Linked DNA regions of Homo sapiens. The protein of the gene in region 1 interacts with the protein of each later gene in a pairwise test. Each region holds a gene or a part of one and is shown in the gene's direction. Other genes may lie near its edges.

Region 1 (3,500 bases):
AAAAAAAGAATATTAGCCAGGCATGGTGGCGGGCACCTTTAGTCCCAGCTACTCGGGAGGCTGAGGCAGGAGAATGGCGTGAACCTGGGAGGCAGAGGTTGCAGTGAGCCGAGATGGCGCCACTGCACTCCAGCCTGGGTGACATAGCGAGACTCCCTCTAAAAACAAAATAAAAACAAAACAAAAACTCCTTATCTTCTAATCTCAACATCTGGGTCATCTTGGGGTCAGTCTCCTTATCATCTTTTCGCTTGGAAATGGCAGGCTGGGCTCAGTGGCTCATGCCTGTAATCCCAGCACTTTGGGAAGCTGAGGTGGGTGGATCACTTGAGGTCAGGAGTTCAAGACTAGCCTGGCCAACATGGTGAAACCCCGTCTGTACTAAAAATACAAAAATTTTCCCGGCGTGGTGGTGCATGCCTGTAATCCCAGCTGCTGGAGAGCCTGAGGCAGGAGAATCGCTTGAACCCAGGAGGCAGAGGTTGCAGTGAGCCTACATCACGCCATTGCACTCCAGCCTTGGTGACAAGAGCGAGACTCTGTCTCAAAAAAAAGAAAACGGCTTCACTTTCCTGTTTCTTTGTATTTTGAGTTAGTTTGGATTGTTTCTTGGATATTGGGATATAGGAATAAGATGTGGATACTCTGGATTCTATCATATAGTTCCAAAGAGTGTTGAGTTTCGTGTTTTGGTAGCTTAGTTGGAATTAGTTTTTTTGGTTTTTCTGTTTTTATTTTTATTTTTTTGTAGAGATGAGGTCTTGCTATGTTGCCCAGTCTGGTCTTCAACTCTTGAACTCAAGCGATCCTCCTGACTCGGCCTCCCAATGTGCTGGGACTACAAGCGTGAACCACTGTGCCTGGCTTCTTGCTGATTTACAGACCATACATGCACCCCCAGCAAAAGATTTAAAAACTAATCTTCAGCCAGGGCAACACACTGAGACCTTGTCTCTAACAAAAATTAGCTGGGTGTGATGAATGACCACACTCCCAGCTACTCTGGAGGCTGAGGTGGGAGGATGGCTCGAACCAGGGAGGTCAAAACTGCAGTGAGCTGTGGTCGTGCCACTGCACCCAGCCTGGGTGACAGTGCAAGAACCCATCTCAAAACAAAAACAACAACAAAAACATACATCTCCCAGCAAGAGATTAGGGCAGAGTTGATACACAGAATTCGGGACTCCTCGCTCTGGCTCTCCCCTCTTTGGAATATCCCCCCTCACTTCCCGGCAGCTTTGGTCACCTTGGACTCTATCCTGTGGCTCTTCAAGCACAATTTCAGTCTGCCCTCAGGCTGAAAGTTTTCAAAACCATTTTCAAAAACACCGAGAGAGTGTTCTGCCACTCTCCTAAGTGGTCACTCCCTCCAGAATCTGCCCAGTGCCTTCAGATAATTGTTTGTTTCTTGTCCAGCCAGCGTATGTAGTTGTCCGTGGGAGGGTTGGCCCTTTAGGACTGAACCAGAAGCAAAATATTTCATACACTGATTTCTGCACAGGGCCCAGAGCCTGGTGCTGGGAACCCAGTCTTGACTAGGACAGTCCCAGGCCCTGTTGTCATGGCGTTCCCAACTCAGTGGGGAAGACAGACAGTAAACTATTTCTTTCTGTTTTGTCCATTAACATATTCCCAGGTCCCTTTCTTTCTTTCCCTCCCCTTTCTCCCTCCCCTCCCTCCCTCTCCTCCCTTCCTCCTTCCCCTCCCTCCCTCTCCTCCCTTCCTCCTTCCCCTCCTTCCCCTCCTTCTCCCTCTCCTCCCTGTCCTCCCTCTCCATCCTTGCTGAGGGCCCTGGTCCCTCTGGCTAAGATTAGGCCTAGATATTTGACCTGCTGTAGGCAAAGCTGGGCCTTTGACCTAGACACCTTGTACCCTTGATTAGCGAGAAAGTTCAAGAGATCTAGAGTAGCCTGCTGGCTCGAGGCTTCTGAACTGGGAGCCAAAAGTAAATCATCCATATATTGAAGGACCAGAGTGCCTGGACTTGAGAAGTGGCCTAGATCTTGGGCCAGTGCCTGACCAAACAGATGAGGCCTATCCCTAAACCCTTGGGGCAAGACCGTCCACATAATTTGGGACGTGTGGTCTGTGGGATCCTCAAAGGCAAAGAGAAACTGGGAGTCAGAGTGTAGGGGAATACAGAAGAAGGCATCCTTGAGGTCTAGAACTGTGAACCATTCTGCTGCCTCTGTTATTTGAGAGAGCAGGGTATAGGTGTTGGTTACAGCTGGATATAGAGAAATTACTGCCTCATTGATGAGTCTAAGATCTTGCACTAGTCTCCACTGACCATTTAGTTTTTGTACTCCTAGAATTGGGGTGTTGTAGGGACTGCTGCATTTCCTTACTAAGCCTGGAGCTTTTAAATGTTTAACAATATTCTGTAATCGTTTATGAGCTTCAGGCTTTAAGGGATATTGCCTTTGATAAGGAAAAGCAGTGGGATCTTTTAACCTGATTTGTAATGGGCGGGCATTTTTTGCCCTTCCAAATTGTCCTTCCAATGCCCAGACTTCAGGGTTGATTCCCTCCACAAGTAGGGGGACAACAAATGGGTAACTTGTTCCCCATATTGATGTAGATAATAGCTCCAGCCTTGGCTAATATGTCCCTGCCTAATAAGGGTGTGGAACTTTCAGGCATAATAAGAAAGGCATGTGAAAAGAGCAAAGTCTCCCAATTACAACTGAGAGGTGGGAGAAATACCTGGTTACAGGCTGTCCCAGGATTCATCGGATGGTAACAGACCTTGAGGACAGTCGTCCAGGACAGGAGATTAACACTGAGAAGGCCGCGCCAGTGTCCAGGAGGAAGTCAGTTTCCTGGCCCTCAATGGTTAAACGTACCCGGGGCTCAGTGAGGGTGATGACATGAGCTGGCGCTTGCCCCGGGCACCCTCTGTCCTGTTGTTGGATCATCTGGTTGGGGGCTTCTGACCTAGGGAACCTTCGTCCGCTGGGGCAGTGCACCTTCCAGTGATTGCCTCGGCATAGTGGACATGGACGAGGGGGCAGCTTGTTTCTCATTGGACAATCTTTTTTAAAGTGTCCTAGTAAACCGCATGATAACAAGCCCTACCGGGTGATTGGCCTCTACTATCTGTCCTCTCTGAACCACTAAGGTTTGTTAGTCTGAGGGCCATAACTAAGGCTGCGGCCTTTCTCCAATCTCACTTTTCCTTTTGGGCCTGTTCCTCTTGGTCCCTATTATAGAACACTGAGGTTGCCAGGTTTTGATAATGCCTCCAAATTTTGTTCAGGGCCCAGGGCTTGCTTTTGGAGCTTTCTCCTGATATCTGCGGCTGATTGGATAATAAACTTATCTTTTAGAATCAATTGACCCTTGAGTGATTCGGGTGACCGGGGAGTATATTTTCTTAAGGCCTCCTATAGCTGCTCGAGGAAGGCAGAAGGATTTTCTTCCTTTCCCTGAGTTATGGTGGACATCATTGAATAATTCATGGGCTTTTTCTAATTCTCCTTAGTCCTTCTAGAACACAG
Region 2 (3,500 bases), on another chromosome or scaffold:
AAGTATATACAAATATATTGTGCTAAGTTCTTCACTTCCAAATTTAGGAAAAGCTTTGAACAAGGAAGGTATCCTTTTCTTTAATTATAAACCTTATATTAAACCTCTAACCAAAATAATAGACTACTAAGATTTACATATATTATATTAAAAATATATAATTGTATTTTTCAACCTACAAAATTATCTCGAGTTCAATATGGCAAGTCATTTATGAGAACCAACTATTGTGTTCTTTACCTGAAATTGAAAATGAGAATGTCTATCTTTAGAAGCTACCAGGACACATGAGTTCAGAACCATCTCTCATAATAACTTACTACCTGATTGTATTAGTCCATTTTCATAGTGCTATGAAGAAATACCTGAGACTGGGTAACTTATAAAGAAAAAAAGGTTTAATGGACTCCCAGTTCCACATAGCTGAAGGGGCCTCACAATTATGGCAGAAGGCAAAGGAGGAGCAAAGGCAAGTCTTACATGGTGGCAGGCAAGAGAGTGTGTGCAGGGGAACTGCCCTTTATAAGACCATCGGATCTCATGAGACTTTTTCACTATCATGAGAACAGCATGGTGAAACCCGCTCCCCCATGATTCAATTACCTCCCACCAGGACCCTCCTATGACATGTGGGGATTATGGGAGCTAAAATTCAAGATGAGGTTTGGTTGGGGACACAGCCAAACCATATCACTCCACTCCTGGCCCCTCACAAATCTCATGTCCTCACATTTCAAAACCAATCATGCCTTCCCAACAGTTCCTCAAAGTCATAACTAATTTCAGCATTAACTCAAAAATTCACAGTCCAAAGTCTCATCTGAGACAAGGCAAGTCCCTTCTACCTATGAGCCTGTAAAATCAAAAGCAAGTTAGTTACTTCCTAGATACAATGGGGATACAGGCATTGGGTAAATACCGCCATTCCAAATGGGAGAAATTAGACAAATCAAAGGTGCTACGGCCCCATGCAAGTCTAAAATCCAGCAGAGCAGTCAAATCTTAAAGCTCCAAAATGATCTTTTTGACTCCATATCTCACATCCAGGTCACACTGATGCAAGAGGTGGGTTCCCATGGTCTTGGGCAGCTCTGCCTCTGTGGCTTTTCAGGGTACAGCCTCTCTTCTGGCTGCTTCCACAGGCTAATGTTGAGTGTCTGTGGCTTTTCCACGTGCACAGTGCAAGCTGTCAGTGGATCTACCATTCTGGAGTCTGGAGGATGATGGCCCTCTTCTCACAGCTCCACTAGGCAGTGCCCCAGTGGGGACTCTGTGTGAAGGCTCCAACCCTACATTTTCCTGCTGCACTGTCCTAGCAGAGGTTCTCCATTAGGGCTCTGCCCCTTTAAGCAGATTTCTGCCTGGACATCCAAGTGTTTCTATACATCCTCTGAAATCTAGGCAGAACTTCCCAAATCTCAGTTCTTATCTTCTGCACATCCACATGCCCAACACCATGTGGAAGCTGCCAAGCTTTGAGGCTTGCACCCTCTGAAGCTACAATCTGAGCTGTACTTTGGCCCCTTTTAGCCATGGCTGGAACACAGGGCAACCAGTCCTGAGACTGCACAAAGCAGCAAGGCCCTGGTGCCCTGCATCTTAGGCCTACAGTCCTATGATGGGAGGGTCTGCAGAGAAGATGTCTGATATGCCCTGGAATCATTTTCCCCATTGTCTTGGCAATTAACATTTGGCTCCTCGTTACATATGCAAATTTCTGCAGCCAGCTTGAATTTCTCCTCAGAAAATTGGTTTTTCTTTTCTATCATCACATCATCAGGCTGCAAATTTTCCAGACTTTTATTATGCTCTGCTCCCCTTTTAAAAATAAGTTTCAATTTTAAACCATATATTTTTGAATACATAAAACTGAATGCTGTTAACAGCCCCCAAGTCACCTCTTGAATGCTTTGCTGCTTAGAAATTTCTTCTGCCAGATACTCTAAATCATCTTTCTCAAGTTCAAAGTTCCACAGATCTCTAAGGGAGGGGCAAAATACTGCCAGTCTCCTTACTAAAACATAGCAAGAGTCACCTTCATTCTAGTTGCCAACAAGTTCCTCATCTCCATCTGAGACCACCTCAGCCTGGACTTCATTGTCCATATTACTATCAAAATTTTAGTCAAAGCCATTCAAGATGTCTCTAGGAAGTTCCAAACTTTCCCACATCTTCCTGTCTTCTTCTAAGCCCTCCAAACTGTTCCAACCTCTGCCTATTATTCAGTTCCAAAGTCACTTCCACATTTTCGGGTATCTTTATAGCAGCGTCCCACTACCAGGTACCAATTTACTGTATTAGTCCATTTTCATACTGTAAAAGAAATACTTCAGACTAGATAATTTATAAAGAAAAACAGGCTTAATGGACTTCCAGTTCCACATGGTTGGGGAGGCCTCACAATCATGGTGAAAGGTGAAGGAGGAGCAAAGGCATGTTTTAAATGGCAGCAGGTAAGAGAGCACATGCAGGGAACTGCCCTTTATAAAACCATCAGCTCGGCCAGGCATGGTGGCTCATGGCTGTAATCCCAGCACTTTGGGAGGCCAAGGTGGGTGGATCACCTGAGGTCAGGAGTTTGAGACCAGCCTGGCCAACATGGTGAAACCCCGTTTCTACTAAAAATACAAAAATGAGCTGGGTGTGGTGGCACATGCCTGTAATTCCAGCTACTCAGGAGGCTGAGGCAGAAGAATTGCTTGAACTGGGGAGACAGAAGTTACAGTGAGCTGAGATCATGCTAAGCTTTACATACATTATAAAAAGAAAAAAATGCATAATTGTATTTTTAAACCTAGAAAATTCTCTTAAATATAGCAAGCAATTTATGAGAACCAACTATTTTGTTCTTTACGTTAAATTGAAAATAGAGAATGTCTATCTTTAGAAGCTACCAGAACACATGAGTCCAGAACCAACTGCACTCCAGCCTGGGCGACAGAGTGAGACTCCATCTCAAAATAAATAAATAAATAAACCCATCAGATCTCATGAGACTCATTCACTCTCACAAGAACAGCACTGGAAAATCCAGCCCCATGATTCAATTACCTCCCACCAGGCCCCTCCCATGACATGTGGGGATTATAGGAGCTATAATTCAAGAAGATATTTGGGTGGGGAAACAGCCAAACCATATCACTGATCTTTCACAAGTTATTTTATTTCTGAGGCCTCAGTCTCTTTAAATGCAAAGTAGGAAGACTAATACCTTCTCTGTCTTCTTCACAGGGACACTGAGAAAAAGCTGTAGATAGAAAAGAGTCTAAGGAAAAATTAGAAGAGGTATCGAAATGAGATAAAATAGTGTTTGTTATATATAAGATGCTAGGGTTGATTCTTTATGTCCAAGCAGCTTTCAAATCACATAACTGACACTATTCTAGACACATGACTCTGAGTGAGCATGAGCCATTTCTTCTGGATTAGACATAATGTTTGTGGCATTTATATGCTAGAATTGTGTAGAACAGCCTTTCTATGAGTGTGTAATGTATAGG
Region 3 (3,270 bases), on another chromosome or scaffold:
ATTTGAAACTTAAAGTATTTCTGAATGAATTTCTTAACTCAGTAGAAAAAAACGGAAGGAGTAAAAGATATTTGCTGCATATATATATTATATATACGTATATATAATATATATATATATATGTAGTGTTTTATCACTGCTCTTAACTGCCTTTGATAATTTCTCATAAACCATTGCTGCCACCTAGTTTTGGAAACTAAAGATCTTCCTATAAGCCCAATTTACTTGGCTAGAAAGCAAAAAAAAAAAAAAAAAAGTGTTAAGGTAGTGTGATATGTGGGAGTGAGAGGCAGTATAGGGCAGGGTAGAGGGAGAGAAGGTGAAAACATGTGTCTTTAATTAGTTATTTTTAAAATTAAAGTAAGTTTTGATTTGAATTGTTAACTAATTATCATTAATTCAGTATTTACAGCTTTTTAATATTAAAACTTCATGACAAAGACCTTAGTTTTGACATTGAAGTAAAACTTAATTAAGGCAGGCATTAGAATAATTTGCCAAATCTTCCAGCCCCTAAAAAGATACTATTTTAATGTAATTAAAAAACAAAAGCAGGTAACCCTCCTGCATTTTTTGTAAGGTGTACTTTAACTTAAAAAAATTAGTTCTCTAGTTGCAAAGGGTGGGAGGAGGAGAATTCTAACCCTGGTTTTAGAACTATTTTAATTTTTATAATAAATGATCTGTATCAATTTTTTAAAGTATTACGTTAATAAATGTAATACTTTGCTGAGCTTCTATGTGCTTATGCCTCTTCTGTATTTTAAAAAAGTTATTTCATTAGAGTATCAGAATTGAAAAGATTGGGTTAAAATACATTACTACATATGTAGGTCGTTACTCTTTCTGAGAGAGTGTATCCATTTATACTCCCTGTCATGCTGTTGTGGAACTATAAGTTTCATCCCACTTTATGATTTTTTTTCTCATATGTTGGGTTGGATAAATAGGAAAAACAATACACATTTTTTTCTAATTAAATCAAAACAAATTTGTATTTAATTTCATTTGATTATATTGCTTTCTTAGATCTATTTGCTGAGCACAATTTAAATGAGAAACATCTTTCTCCTCTGGAAAATGTAGGGTATCACATTTTATTTTGCAGAAGAAAACCTTTCCCAGGGTGGTACTGTGTCTGCTTGCAATGAAGATAGGAAGGAACTGGTTGACTTTTTTTTTTTTTTTTTTTTTTTTTTTTTTTAGTGTTAACTGGGGCATGAATGTGGCGGTTTCCATCACAGGTGCTGAAAACACTCTTGGAGGCAACTGCAGCTCTTTTGAAAGTTTTAATTGCGTCTTTCAATAATCCTTCCCCCAGGAGGAGCAAAGGCCAGTGCAGATGATGTATCAGGAGGCCACGTTTAAGCTCGCCCACGTGGGCGAGGTGCGCGCGCAGCTGCTGGAGCTGCCCTACGCCAGGAAGGAGCTGAGCCTGCTGGTGCTGCTGCCTGACGACGGCGTGGAGCTCAGCACGGTAAGACCCGGGCTGCGGGAAGAACCCAGGGACACCTTTGCGGGCAGAACTCGAGTGCCACTTCCACCTCTCATATTCACCTTCTGAGTTGGCGATGCGGCAGACGCACACTGTGCAGGCACTTGGCGTTGGGATCGAACTTTTGTTCAAGGCTGACTTTTCCCAATATTGTCTGCGTGATCTGCCAAACTACACATCTCAGTCCTCTGTTTTTTCATCGCTAGAAGGAGTGGGCGGCGGTTAAAATGCCTTTTAAAATAAATCAGGTAGGAGGAAGCTTATAAAAATCCTGCTAGTTTGATGAATGGCAGACTTTTAACTCTAAAAGCATAAATGACTGCTCGGGGTTATTGCCTCCTAGAGTTATGATGAGGATAAAATGTGGGTAATTCAGGTAACAAGCTTACCACATTGCCTGGCAACTAGTAAATGCTCTACAAATGTGATCCATTATTACAATCATCATTCTTAGCATTATGCTTTTAAAGTCTAGGAACCTGAAATAGAGAATGAGGAAGTCTTAACTTTGACCTAACAAGGCTGGGAGGGGGCATCCAGGGAGGTGTGAAGTCCAGTTCTCAGAGGGTGGGACCAGAGGCAGCCTCTGAGGGCACATCCAGGCACTCGGCTTCCTTTCAGCATGGATCTCCAGGGTGAGAGAGTCAACCATGGCAAATGGCAGGCAGTGGGACCCCATGACTTAAGAGGTCTGTGTGCGCAGCAGCCATTGGCTCTCCCTCTGCCCACCTTCCTGAAACTATGCTCCGGAAACTATGCAGAATCTCTCTGGGGCAGATAATCCTCTGGTAACCTCTCTGCTCCGGAAACTATGCAGAATCTCACCTGGGACAGATAATCCTGTTGGAGTGGCTCACACTGAGAGCCCTTTCGTTTCCAATCCTTTTCTTTACTAGCAATGGTTTGTTGTCTTTAAAAAGACTATGTTTGAAAAAAAAACACAGTCGCCTGGGCATTGACACTTGTCACAATACAAGATGTCTCTGGAGTTGTTGGATAAGGAGAGGACAGCCACAGCCTTCCTGCCTCTGACTGCTTGGTGTCTCTCCCCCTTGTCAAGGAAGTGGCACATGGGACATAGGACAAGTAAGAGTGCTCACAAGCTTCTGGCAGATGAAGGGGCCACTGATCCTATGTGAACAAACAACACCTACGTGCAAGGGGAGGAAGGGAACTGTGAGTGCCTGTGCGCTTGTACATGTGCACTGAAGTCGGAATCTTAAAGTCTAATTCTGGTCTTTCAGGTGGAAAAAAGTCTCACTTTTGAGAAACTCACAGCCTGGACCAAGCCAGACTGTATGAAGAGTACTGAGGTTGAAGTTCTCCTTCCAAAATTTAAACTACAAGAGGATTATGACATGGAATCTGTGCTTCGGCATTTGGGAATTGTTGATGCCTTCCAACAGGGCAAGGCTGACTTGTCGGCAATGTCAGCGGAGAGAGACCTGTGTCTGTCCAAGTTCGTGCACAAGAGTTTTGTGGAGGTGAATGAAGAAGGCACCGAGGCAGCGGCAGCGTCGAGCTGCTTTGTAGTTGCAGAGTGCTGCATGGAATCTGGCCCCAGGTTCTGTGCTGACCACCCTTTCCTTTTCTTCATCAGGCACAACAGAGCCAACAGCATTCTGTTCTGTGGCAGGTTCTCATCGCCATAAAGGGTGCACTTACCGTGCACTCGGCCATTTCCCTCTTCCTGTGTCCCCAGATCCCCACTACAGCTCCAAGAGGATGGGCCTAGAAAGCCAAGTGCAAAGATGAGGGCAGATTCTTTACCTGTC
Region 4 (4,171 bases), on another chromosome or scaffold:
TTTTAATCCATTCTGAGTTGATTTTTGTGTATGGTGAGGGATAGGGGTCTAGTTTCATTCTTCTGCATATGGATTTCCAGTTTTTCCAGCACTACTTATTGAATAGAATGTCCTTAATATATGTTCTTGGTGTTTTTATTGATAATCAGCTGGCTGTAAATATATGGATTTATTTTGGGGTTCTTTATTCTGTTCCATTGGTCTTTGTGTCTATTTTATGCCAATAGAATGCTGTTTTGGTTACTACACCTTGGTAGTATAATTTGAATTCTGGTAGTGTGTTGCTTCCTGCTTTGTTCTTTTTGTTCAGTGTTGCTTTGGCTATTCAGGACCTTTTGTGGTTTTATACAATTTTTTTTTCTATTTCTATGAAGAGAAAGCCACAGAGTCCTAAAATAATTCTAAAACTCATCATGACTTTCTTGCCTAAAAGATCTTGATTTCAATCGTGCCTAGTTTTGCTTTAATCACTTGCTTGAGAAATACATAAATCCCCACTTAAGATTAGTGCAGGCATATCTCTGGCACCCATTTCTGGTTCTATTAAAATTCCTAGAGATGTCAAAAATTACATTAGGCCACCTGACAGGCTATACCTAGAAGAGAAAAAATGATTTGTAAAAGCAGTGGGGCTATTTGCGATTGCTTTTTTTTTTTCTTAAATATCACCTATTAGGTTGAAAACCTGAAATTGCAGCTTTCTGTAGAAATGGCGGAAGACAAACTAACATTTTTAAAGCGCTCTCATTTAGCTCTGATGAGTACTACACCCCTGATATTCTTCTGATACTAAAATAATTTTCCTAGTGTAGTCTAAACTTTTTTAAAAAGACATGTAATCCGCGGAGTTTGTAACTCAAAACGAGTGCATCTAGGAGGTATCGCAAGCCGTTTCTGGATTAAATTCCCAGCTAGCTAGCTAGCTAAGCAGGGGCGGTGAAGAAGACAATCTGCAGCCTAGGGAAGAAAACGCTTTCGCATTGTTCTTACGTGTTTACGTTATTTTATTTCCCTAGAGCAAGGCAGGAGTAGGGACTCGAATGGTACAGTTGGGCTGGGGATCGCCCTGGTACAATAAAAGCGTCCAGAGAGGACGGTAACAGGCAGGAGCTCCAAAGGTCAGTCCCTGCAATTTAAGACTCAGGAATTTAGGTTGCACAAAAAGGAAAGCAACCTACTGCATTTGGCACTGGCGGTCCCGGGAGGCCGGGGGTGGGGAAGCGCCCAGTGCGCAGACTCCGCGGGCTTGCGCAGGCCCGCAAAAGAGGGACGGGGGTGGTGCCTTTGGGGCGCGGCGCCGCGGCTGGGGGCGTGGCGCCGGGGATTGGGAGGGCTTCTTGCAGGCTGCTGGGCTGGGGCTAAGGGCTGCTCAGTTTCCTTCAGCGGGGCACTGGGAAGCGCCATGGCACTGCAGGGCATCTCGGTCGTGGAGCTGTCCGGCCTGGCCCCGGGCCCGTTCTGTGCTATGGTCCTGGCTGACTTCGGGGCGCGTGTGGTACGCGTGGACCGGCCCGGCTCCCGCTACGACGTGAGCCGCTTGGGCCGGGGCAAGCGCTCGCTAGTGCTGGACCTGAAGCAGCCGCGGGGAGCCGCCGTGCTGCGGCGTCTGTGCAAGCGGTCGGATGTGCTGCTGGAGCCCTTCCGCCGCGGTGAGCCCGGGCCCCGCGGGCTGCTCTCGGGAAGTTCCCGCGGAGGGGAGGGGCCTGGCCGTTCGATCGAGGCTGCACCCGCCACACCTTTGCCCTGTTGCCGCAAGAACCCTTGTCGGCCCCAGCCTTCCAGATTTTTGCCTCCTAGGGTATTGTTAGTGATCATTCTTCCCAAACTGGATTGTCCAAAACTTGGGTTCTGAGATACTGCTGTTGCCCGGTTTCTCCTTTTGCCTCTCTGACTCCTTCCCAAATTCCTCCTTTTTTTTCTAAGAAACGTTCCGTATTTGCCTTTCTTAATTAATTGAGGGTCTTGAACCCTGTGAGAATCTAATGAAAGCCATAGGATTCCCTTCCTGGAAAACTGCATATAGGCGGTCATTCGGCTACCGTTTTGGAGTGCTGTACCCTCAAGCCATCCACGGGCCCAGGCTAACGCTCCTCCCTGCCTGAAATGCTGGCGTTCTAAGTCTCAGCATCTGCTCCCTGAAGCCCAGTTACCCATTCCCATCATTTTCACCTTTTTGTAGACTTCCCCCTTTCAGAGCGGCAGACGCTGGCATACACAGGTCCTGGGCATCGCCGTCAAGGCTGCCCGCCAGGCAGCTTCCACAAATCCCAAAATGAGCCTTTCCTTCTTCCTTCTAAAACAGCATCTCCACCTTCTGTATTATTTATTTCAGTGAATGCCTGAATCTCAAACTTGTACTTCATCATGGACTCCAGTCTTCCTTTCACATCCAATTTCAATGATCATCAATACAGTCATTTTGCTCCTTAGCCCACTCGGACTATTTCTCTCCATACCTGCTGCAACTGCCTTGACACTGGTGTGACAGCCTTTTAAAAACTGGTGTTTGGGGCTGGTATCACTCCAGTGGATTCTCAGACAGCTGCCAGAATAACTTTGTTCAAGTAGAAATCCAAAGCATTGCCTGGTCTATAGTGGGAAATCGGTAAATGGTGAATGAATGAATGCCTACGGCACAGCCGGCTTATTTAAATGCGTTAACTCATTTAACCCTCACAGCTGTATTTGAGGCTTGTAACAATAATGATTTAATAATTAAGATTATGTAATAATTTAAGAATGCTCCATTTAAGATGAGGGAGGCTTGTCCAAGGTCTTGTAATTAGGAGGAAGGTCGGCTGGGAATACGGATATAGCCTCCGGGTGAGGAGTTGTGACTGGTGTTTAGGTAGATGACTAGAGGTTTTCTGTGATTTATTTTAGCCTTAGGAAGGTAAAGATAGTGAGTTTATTATGTAATTTTGATTACTTTTAATCCCAGGAAATTTCAGGTGCTGGTTACCTGGGGTTTGTGCTATAAATACTATACTTGTTGATAGCTTAAAAACTCTCAGGTGCTATTGTCACTAACCACTCTTTCTACAGATGGGTGCTAAACTTTTTCGTGAAGGTACTGATGCTAGGCACTTTAGCGCCTGTGGAAACATCAGGTGTAAATTCTGCAGGAGGAGCTCATGAGCTGATAGGGAAGATAAGTGTATGCATGTACAAGCAAGTGCAGCTAAGGTGGGATGTGGTAAACACTGATGCGGTATAGAAAAAGAGAAAAGGGATTTACTAAAGGGATGAGACCCTGCTCTGGGGATTGAATAAATAGGCTTGGATAAACCTAGAGGGAAACAGAGATGTACTGGGAGAAATTACATCCTGGGAAGAAGCCACACATTCCAGAAATGGTGGCTTCACTCTTTGAGTCCTTAACTGCTGTAAACATGCCATTAGCCTACAGCAAATGTTATTAATATTACTTGCAATGGTGCTATTTTATGTTTGTCTCAGAGAAGGGATTATCTCCATCCTCAATTCATACTCTCTTAAGAAGATCGTTACTTTTCTCTTAAGGTGTCATGGAGAAACTCCAGCTGGGCCCAGAGATTCTGCAGCGGGAAAATCCAAGGCTTATTTATGCCAGGCTGAGTGGATTTGGCCAGTCAGGAAGCTTCTGCCGGTTAGCTGGCCACGATATCAACTATTTGGCTTTGTCAGGTATGTTGAAAAAAAATTTAGTCTACACTTTTAATTTATTCCATCAAGATCTACAGGTATGTTGATTAACAATAATTTGTAAAGGTAAAAATTTAAACATTTATCAGAATCAATCAAGAGAGCATGGGTGTTCAAAATGGATCGGTTTGAGTCTTGAAACAATCATTCTCAACCTTCCCTCACCCCATCCCTTAACAGGTTGGAAGGTTAATACATGCCCACTACTATCATTTATTTACTACATTTGTTGAGTCAATTCTCAGACAAACCCCTGCTAGGAATTAAGAGGCTTACTGGGTACTACGGATGGTTGCTCTGTGGTTTGAAAATGTTGACATAGTTAGATTCTGACAGCTACTTCTCCCCCGGACCCCGAAATCTCCACCCACCATATTGAGAATCATTGCCTGAGTCATTGTTTCAGACTTCTATGAGCACTAAAAAAAGCCCATGGTTTTCAGGTCCTAATATCACTTTATTAGAGTTTTTGCCTGTGACGACATGT
Region 5 (3,951 bases), about 31 Mb from region 1:
AGTGACAAGACGAAGGAAAAGGACATTGAGGCCGGGTGCGGTGGCTCACGCTTGTAATCCCAGCACTTTGGGAGGCCGAGGCGGGCGGATCACTTGAGGCCAGGAATTTGAGAACAGCCTGGCCAACGTGGTGAAACCCCGACTCTACCAAAAATACAAAAATTAGCCGGGCACAGTGGTGCACAGCTGTGATCCCAGCTACTTGGGAAGCTGAGGCACGAGAATCGCTTGAACCAGGGAAGCGGAGGACGCAGTGAGCAGAGATGGCGCTACTGCACTCTAGCTTTGGGGACAGAGCAAGACTCCGTCTCAAAAAAAAAGAAAAAAAAAAAAAAGACGTCTCCAGACAAGAGTCTAAAGGTGTCCCTGGTGATCAACCTTTGTCCTTCCTGGTAGAGAGGGGAGGAGGGCACCTTTGTACCTTTAGGTCCTGCTTTGAGGCAAATCAGGGAAGAACAGAGAGCTTTTCCGGTATCAGCTTCATTGATCTCAGCTCAAAATAATCCTACACCAAGGTCGCATATTTCAGAGGGGCATATGCTGGTCTCCTACGGGGGTCTCTCTTGGGGGTGATAAAAATACCCCGAAACTAGCAAGGGGTGATGGTTGTCCAACATGTGCATGTACTAATGTCACTGAATTGTGCATTTTTATTTTTTATTTATGTATTCTAGAACAATTCTTAACGTCCAAAGATAACGTCTTTCCTTAACGTCGAAAGATGCCTTGTTGTGATATTACAGCAGTCATTCCTGCTCACTACGGGCAGGCAGACAGTGCAGAAAAGGTGAAGCACAAAAACTAAAAAGGAAAATCTCTCCTTGAACCACTGCGAACAGGTTGGTGGTTTTGCTTGGAATATTTTTGGAGCGTGTGGGTAGTTGGTTAAACTTAGAAATATATTTTTTTGTGCGTGGGTAGTTGGCCAAACCGCCGTGGGGCAGAATGCAGCAAACTCCGAGGATGATCCAGGGTCTGCAGGCCTGGAGAGCACACACGTGTCGGCCCCACCTCTGCAAACTCTGTCCCTCCCCTACAGCGGACAAAAAGCCGGTCAGGGGGACAAAGGCCTGCGGCCGCGCCTGCGCGCAAGCCTTTGGGGCGCTCCCGGTACCCCGGCCTGGCCCCGCCCCCTGGCGCGGCGCGCCGACGTCGCGGTGACGTCACGGAGTTGCCATGGCGTCGCTGAGCGGCCTGGCGTCGGCGCTGGAGTCGTACAGGGGCCGGGACCGCCTGGTGAGGCAGGGGCGGACCGGGGCCGGAGGTCCTAGAGTTTGGCCCAAGCTCAGAGACTGGGAAACGGGCCAGAGAGGGGACGGGGTCGCCCAGGATACTCCGTCGCAGAGGCCCCGTCCGAGCTAGGCTCAAATGCGGTGCCCTAGCATTGGACATTTATGTATTTATTTATTTTGGCTGGAGTGCAGTGGTGCGATCTCTGCTCACTGCAGCCTCCGCTTCCCGGGTTCAAGCGATTCTCCTGCCTCAGCACTCCCGAGTAGCTGGGACTACAGGCGCCCGCCACCACTCCCTGCTATTTTTTTGTATTTTTAGTAGAGACGGAGTTTCATCGTGTTAGCCAGGATGGTCTCGATCTCCTGGCCTCAAGCGATCCACCTGCCTCGGCCTCCCAAAGTGCTGGGATTACAGGCGTGAGCCACCGCGTCTGGCCAGCGTTGGACATTTAGATAGTTTCTGCCAACCCAACCTGTCTGGACATTGACACACTGGCCAGATTCCCGTGTTTGGACGTTTTGGATCCGACCAGGCCACTGAAGTTGTCCTGAACAATCTCGTGTTGGGATTTGGGATGTTGCAGGGCTCCCCTGTGGCTGGACATTCACTTCCAACCAGATTCCCTATAGTTGGGCATTTAGGTTGTTTCAGCCAACCTAGACCAAAGAACACGCCATGGCCTGGGCCCTGCCATGCCTAAGCAGCGATGGGTTCCAACAAAACCCCAGTTGGTCATTTAGATCGTCTCTGCCAACCCAGCCTGGCTGGACGTTTACATACCAAACAGATTCCCATGTTTGGACATTTAGGATCTGACCGGGCCACTGTAGTTGGTCCCTGGGTTGTCCCAAACAATCTCATGTGGGGATTTAGGATATTGCAAGACTCTCCCTATGGCTGGACAGTTTTTAGTTCCAATCAAGTCCCATATGGTTGAACATTTAGGTTATGCCATCCATGCCCCTGAGTCTGGACTCTTAGCTTGTCCCCACCAGTCTCTTATAGGTAGACATTCAGGTTGTACCAGGCGGTGTACTGGTGGCTAGGCATTTAGATTCCATTCAAATATCTTATGATTGGGGGGGTGGGTTAACAAATCTCCCCCGAGTTGAACATTCAGATTGCAGTGTTTTGCCATTATAATGGGGCTGGAAAGGAATTACAAGTAAAAATAAATAAAACAACAGGAACAAGCAATTTCTGAAAAGCAGGTAAAATAAAGATATAAGGGAGGCCAGGCGTGGTGGCTCGCGCCTGTGATCCTAGCACTTTGGGAGGCTGAGCTGGGTGGATTGTCTGAGCTCAGGAGTTTGAGACCAGCCTGGGAAAAGTGATGAAACCTCGTCTCTACTAAAATACAAAAATTAGCCGGATGTGGTGGTGCGTGCCTGTAGTCCCAGCTACTTGGAAGGCTGAGGCGGGAGAATTGCTTGAACCTGGGATGCAGAGGTTGCAGTGAGCTCACACCTTTGCACTCGAGCCTGGGGAGCAGAGCAAGACTCTGTCTCCAAAAGAAAAAAGATCTGAGTAGTGAAGATGACCTATTTCAGAAGGCTCCACATCACCTACTGAGTAGGTTCTTTCTCTCTAAAGTAATTCTACCAAATTATCCTGTTGTTCACTGGGTTGAGGCCTGATCACCTGTGCCCACCATTCAGCACATCCAAAGGCTTTGGTCCAGGCAGGTAGATGTAAATATACACTTTAGCTGTGGCTTCCTGCCACCTGGGAAAAGAAGGACCTAGGAGGTGGGAAGTAAGGAGCTTTGTTTTCTTTGTTCCTGTCACATCTGTTCCCAAAGGCTGTGCCCTTCAGTTACATCAATGATGTCATGTTTCTTCATTTGTCCCACCTCCAAGTATGTTTTTAAACTTCCAGCTTTTTTTTTCTTTTTCTTTTTCTTTTTTTAGACAGGGTCTCGCCCTGTTGCCCAGGCTGGAGTGTAGTAGCACGATTACAGCTCACTACAGTCTGGAACTCCTGGGCTCAAGTGATCCTCCAGCATCAGCCTCCCAAGTAACCACCATGCCCTGTTAACTTAAAAAAATTTTTGGTAGCCAGGCGCGGTGGCTTACGCCTGTAATCCCAGCACTTTGGGAGGCCGAGGCGGGTGGATCATGAGGTCAGGAGATCAAGACCATCCTGGCTAAAATGGTGAAACCCCATCTCTACTAAAAATACAAAAAATTAGGTGGGCTTGGTGGCGGGTGCCTGTAGTCCCAGCTACTCGGGAGGCTGAGGCAGGAGAATCGCATGAACCCGGGAGGTGGAGCTTGCAGTGAGCCGAGATCGCGCCACCGCACTCCAGCCTAGGTGACGGAGCAAGACTCCGTCTCAAAAAAAAAAATTTTTTTGGTAGACACAGGGTCTTGCTATGTTGCCCAGGCTGGTCTCAAACTCCTGGTGTGAAGGCATCCTCTCACCTCGGTTTCTCAAAGTGCTGGGGTTACAGGTGTGAGCCACTGTGCCCCACCTAAACTTTCAGCTTTTACTGTCACTTTGTAGATTTAGAATCTTCCAAACTCTTGGGTCAGGCACGGTGGCTCATGCCTGTAATCCCAGCACTTTGGGAGGCTAAGGCAGGTGGATCACTGAGGTTATGAGTTTGAGACCAGCCTAGCCAACCTGGTGAAACCCTGTCTCTACAAAAAATATAAAAATTAGCAGGGTGTGGTGGTGGGCGCCTGTAATCCCAGCTACTGGGGAGGCTGAGGCACA
Region 6 (3,110 bases), on another chromosome or scaffold:
ACCGAGCAGGCCAAACAAAATATGTCTGTGGGTCTGATTCATTCATTCATTCATTCATTCATTCATTCATTCATTCATTCATTCAACAAGCCTTTGTTGCGCGCCTACTTGGCACAAGGCACTGTTTCAGGTACTGGGGAGACTGCATGAACAAAACCTCAAAGTCCTGCCCTTATGGAGCTGACACTAGGTCGAGAGAAAGATAACAAGTGAAATAAGTGAACTATCTAGTGTGTTAGATTTTGAGAGTGTTAAGGAGAAAACGTAAAGCCAGGAAAGGGTGTGGGCAGCAGGTGTTCATGTCTAGAAGCTCAGCGTCTGTCACCACGTGGGGTGGTATCCAGCCCTACCAGGCCCTGGGGGCTCCAGGGTGGAGATGGTCCTCCTCCCTTCTCCAGCCTTTCTGCCCCCTGGCTCACATCCTCTTTTGCTCTCTGACTCCTCAACAGGCATAATCACCAGCAACACCCGGGACAATAATACGGGGGCCACCTACCCCCACCTGAACTTCAGCATTCCCATCACGGTGCTCCAGCCGGCCCTGCAGCAGTACAGCCAGACCCAAGACCTAGGTGGCCTCCGTGAGCTGGACCGCGCTGCTGAGCCAGTCAGGGTGGTGTGGCGGTTGCAGCGGCCCCTGGCAGAGGCCCCGCGGAGCAAGCTCTGAGGCTGTGTTACCACCTTTGGAAAGAAGAGTGACCTTTTTCTGCTGTAGGAAGTGATGTTGAGGTGACGGTGGCCTCAGGATTCAGGGCCCAGCCCCTGCAGGGGCCCAGGCTGCCTCTCATCTCCACCCACTGACTGCAGACTGGGCTTTGGGCTCTGGGGCAAACTTCTCTTCAGCCCCATGGATCCTTAACCTGGCAGCCCGTTTTGGGGTGCTTTCTTGAGCCCCCAGTTCTCTGTCCCCTAGCACTAGACTCAGCTGTATTGTTTTTCCTTCTGGGGAGCCCACTCCAACTGCACAGAAGTTCTGGGCCTGACAGGTAGATTCCAGCTGGAAGGCAGGCCCGTGCCTGGTTTTGCGTCTGTTCCCCTGAGGGCCATCGTCATCCTGGAGCTTCAATGGGGCCTTGGCTCCTGTCTGCCTCTCAGTCAGAGTCAGGGCTGACAAAGGACTCAGCTTCCTTAGCATCTCAGCAGAAACCTTGCTCTGAAGACCAGAGACAGAAGGGACAGAAACAGGAGTGCCTCCTGCTGTGCCAGGCCCATGGGCAGTGCAGGCAGATCCCTGAAGGTCAGCACTCCTGGGTCTTCATATGCCAACAGGGGCGCTCTTGACACTGTGCCTTCATTTTCCAGCCCACAGCCTGGGTCTCAGGGATCTTGAGGGGTAGAACATGTCTGGTTGGGGCTTGGGAATAAACATGATCTATTGAAAAACCTCTGTATTTATATATCAAATTGTTTCTTTTTTTCAGGAGTTGAACTGGGAATAGGCAAGTACCAGGCAAAGAAACACACCCTTTCCTTTTTTTTTTTTTTTTTTCTTTAGAGCTGTGGTCTTGCTCTCTCACCCAGGCTGGAGTGCAGTGTTGCGATCACAGCTCACTGCAGCCTCAAACTCCTGGGCTCCAGGAGACCTCCTGCCTCAGCCTCCTGAATAGCTGGGACTACAGTCGCGCACCACCACGCCTGGCTAATTTTTTATTTTTGTAGAAATGGGGTATTGCTTTGTTGCCCGTGCTGGCTTCAGCCTTCTGGTTTCAAGCAGTCCTCCTGCCTCAGCTTCCCAAAGTGCTGGGATTACAGGTGTGAGCCACTGTGCCCAACCCAGAAATACACCCTTTCTGTGCTGTTTTCTCAGCAGGGTGTGAGCTCACGGGATACGGTCCTGCCAGACTGGCCCTCATAGCTGGTCATGTGCCAGTCAGAGCTGGGTGGGGCTTGCAGGTCCCGGAAGGTGGTGGTCTTGACCTGGCAGCAGATGCTTAAAGAATGCCTAAGGTGGGTGGCAGTTGGGGAGTTCAAGGGTGAATGAGGCCAGGGCAGCCCCCAGGAGCTGAGGCCAACTCTTTGAGTCAGGACTGTGCCGTGTGCCCAGGGCCTTGCATGTGTGGGCCCTCGAGTGATTTCTACTGGCAGGCTGAAAGCCCTGTGAGGGGCGGCTGTGGGCGGAGGCCACGCAGGAAGAGTGCTTAGGAGTAACTTGTTTCTAACACCTGTGTGCTGAGTGCCAATGCTGGGTGTGGTGTTATGATATATATTGGTTTTCATCCAGCATTCCTGACTCGTAACTCTCATAGTCCTTGTTCCAGTCTTTGTTAGAATACTGGGTATGTTAGGGCTTGGGACAGGCCTCTGACCTCTGGGTATCCTTTCACTAATGTTCGCCCACCTTTTTCACAGTGGGTCCTAAAGACCTTCCCATGAGAGGGTCTCAATCCTAGGGGAAGGAATGTTGATGTCATGAACCTTCCATAAAAACCCAAGAGGACAGGGTTCAGAGAGCTTCTGGATAGCTGAACACCTGGCACTTCCTGGAGTGTGGCGTGCCCAGGGAGGGCACGGAAGCTCTGCACTCCTTCCCCTTCCCTCATTCCTTGCTCTATGTGCATCTCTTCATCTGTATCCTTTGCGATATCCTTTATAATAAACCGGTAAACATAAGTAAGTGTGTCTCTGAGCTCTGTGATCCACTCTAGCAAATTAATTGAACCCAAAAAGGAGGTCGTGGGAACTCAACTTGAAGCCAGTTGGTCAGAAGTTCTGGAGGCCTAGACTTGTGCCTGGTGTGGTTGAGGGGGGCAGTCTTGGAGACTGAACCCTCAACCTGTGGGGTCTGACAATGTCTCTGGGTAGATAGTGTTGGAACTGAATTAGAGGACACCCGGCTGATGTCCACTGCTTTTGGTGGGGAAACCCCACACACATTTGGTCACTGAAGTCTTCTGTGTTGATGATTGTGATGGCATGAGAGTAGAGGGAAAACACGATTTGAGGAGAGTTTTTCCTAAAACACGGGGCAATCACAGAACACTCCTGGGATGGTTGTTCCTCCCTTTACAGATTAGGAATGGGTCCAGAGGTCATGGCTAGTTTAAGAGAAGTTCTACAGTAAGTTAATGGTAGCAGAATCCTAGATCTGAGGTCTGACTTTGCTGTGAGAG

What was found.
Region 2: the proteins of ECH1 (region 1) and HAO2 come close enough for resonance energy transfer, tested with the Homo sapiens proteins (one large-scale study listed by BioGRID).
Region 3: the proteins of ECH1 (region 1) and SERPINB9 interact in a two-hybrid assay, tested with the Homo sapiens proteins (one large-scale study listed by BioGRID and IntAct).
Region 4: the proteins of ECH1 (region 1) and AMACR come close enough for resonance energy transfer, tested with the Homo sapiens proteins (one large-scale study listed by BioGRID).
Region 5: the proteins of ECH1 (region 1) and PEX11G come close enough for resonance energy transfer, tested with the Homo sapiens proteins (one large-scale study listed by BioGRID).
Region 6: the proteins of ECH1 (region 1) and TYSND1 come close enough for resonance energy transfer, tested with the Homo sapiens proteins (one large-scale study listed by BioGRID).

The regions. Positions count from the first base shown.
Region 1 is NC_000019.10:38,825,295-38,828,794, reverse strand, and holds part of ECH1 (delta(3,5)-Delta(2,4)-dienoyl-CoA isomerase, mitochondrial precursor), read left to right. Parts: intron 1-3,500. UniProt on the Homo sapiens protein: Isomerization of 3-trans,5-cis-dienoyl-CoA to 2-trans,4-trans-dienoyl-CoA.
Region 2 is NC_000001.11:119,375,285-119,378,784, forward strand, and holds part of HAO2 (2-Hydroxyacid oxidase 2), read left to right. Parts: intron 1-3,500. UniProt on the Homo sapiens protein: Oxidase that catalyzes the oxidation of medium and long chain hydroxyacids such as 2-hydroxyhexadecanoate and 2-hydroxyoctanoate, to the correspondong 2-oxoacids.
Region 3 is NC_000006.12:2,890,040-2,893,309, reverse strand, and holds part of SERPINB9 (serpin B9), read left to right. Parts: intron 1-1,321; coding exon 1,322-1,477; intron 1,478-2,739; coding exon 2,740-3,147; 3' UTR 3,148-3,270. UniProt on the Homo sapiens protein: Granzyme B inhibitor.
Region 4 is NC_000005.10:34,005,251-34,009,421, reverse strand, and holds the start of AMACR (alpha-methylacyl-CoA racemase), read left to right. Parts: upstream 1-1,371; 5' UTR 1,372-1,402; coding exon 1,403-1,649; intron 1,650-3,522; coding exon 3,523-3,666; intron 3,667-4,171. UniProt on the Homo sapiens protein: Catalyzes the interconversion of (R)- and (S)-stereoisomers of alpha-methyl-branched-chain fatty acyl-CoA esters.
Region 5 is NC_000019.10:7,486,236-7,490,186, reverse strand, and holds the start of PEX11G (peroxisomal membrane protein 11C), read left to right. Parts: upstream 1-1,151; 5' UTR 1,152-1,176; coding exon 1,177-1,236; intron 1,237-3,951. UniProt on the Homo sapiens protein: Promotes membrane protrusion and elongation on the peroxisomal surface.
Region 6 is NC_000010.11:70,137,481-70,140,590, reverse strand, and holds the end of TYSND1 (peroxisomal leader peptide-processing protease), read left to right. Parts: intron 1-449; coding exon 450-667; 3' UTR 668-2,610; downstream 2,611-3,110. UniProt on the Homo sapiens protein: Peroxisomal protease that mediates both the removal of the leader peptide from proteins containing a PTS2 target sequence and processes several PTS1-containing proteins.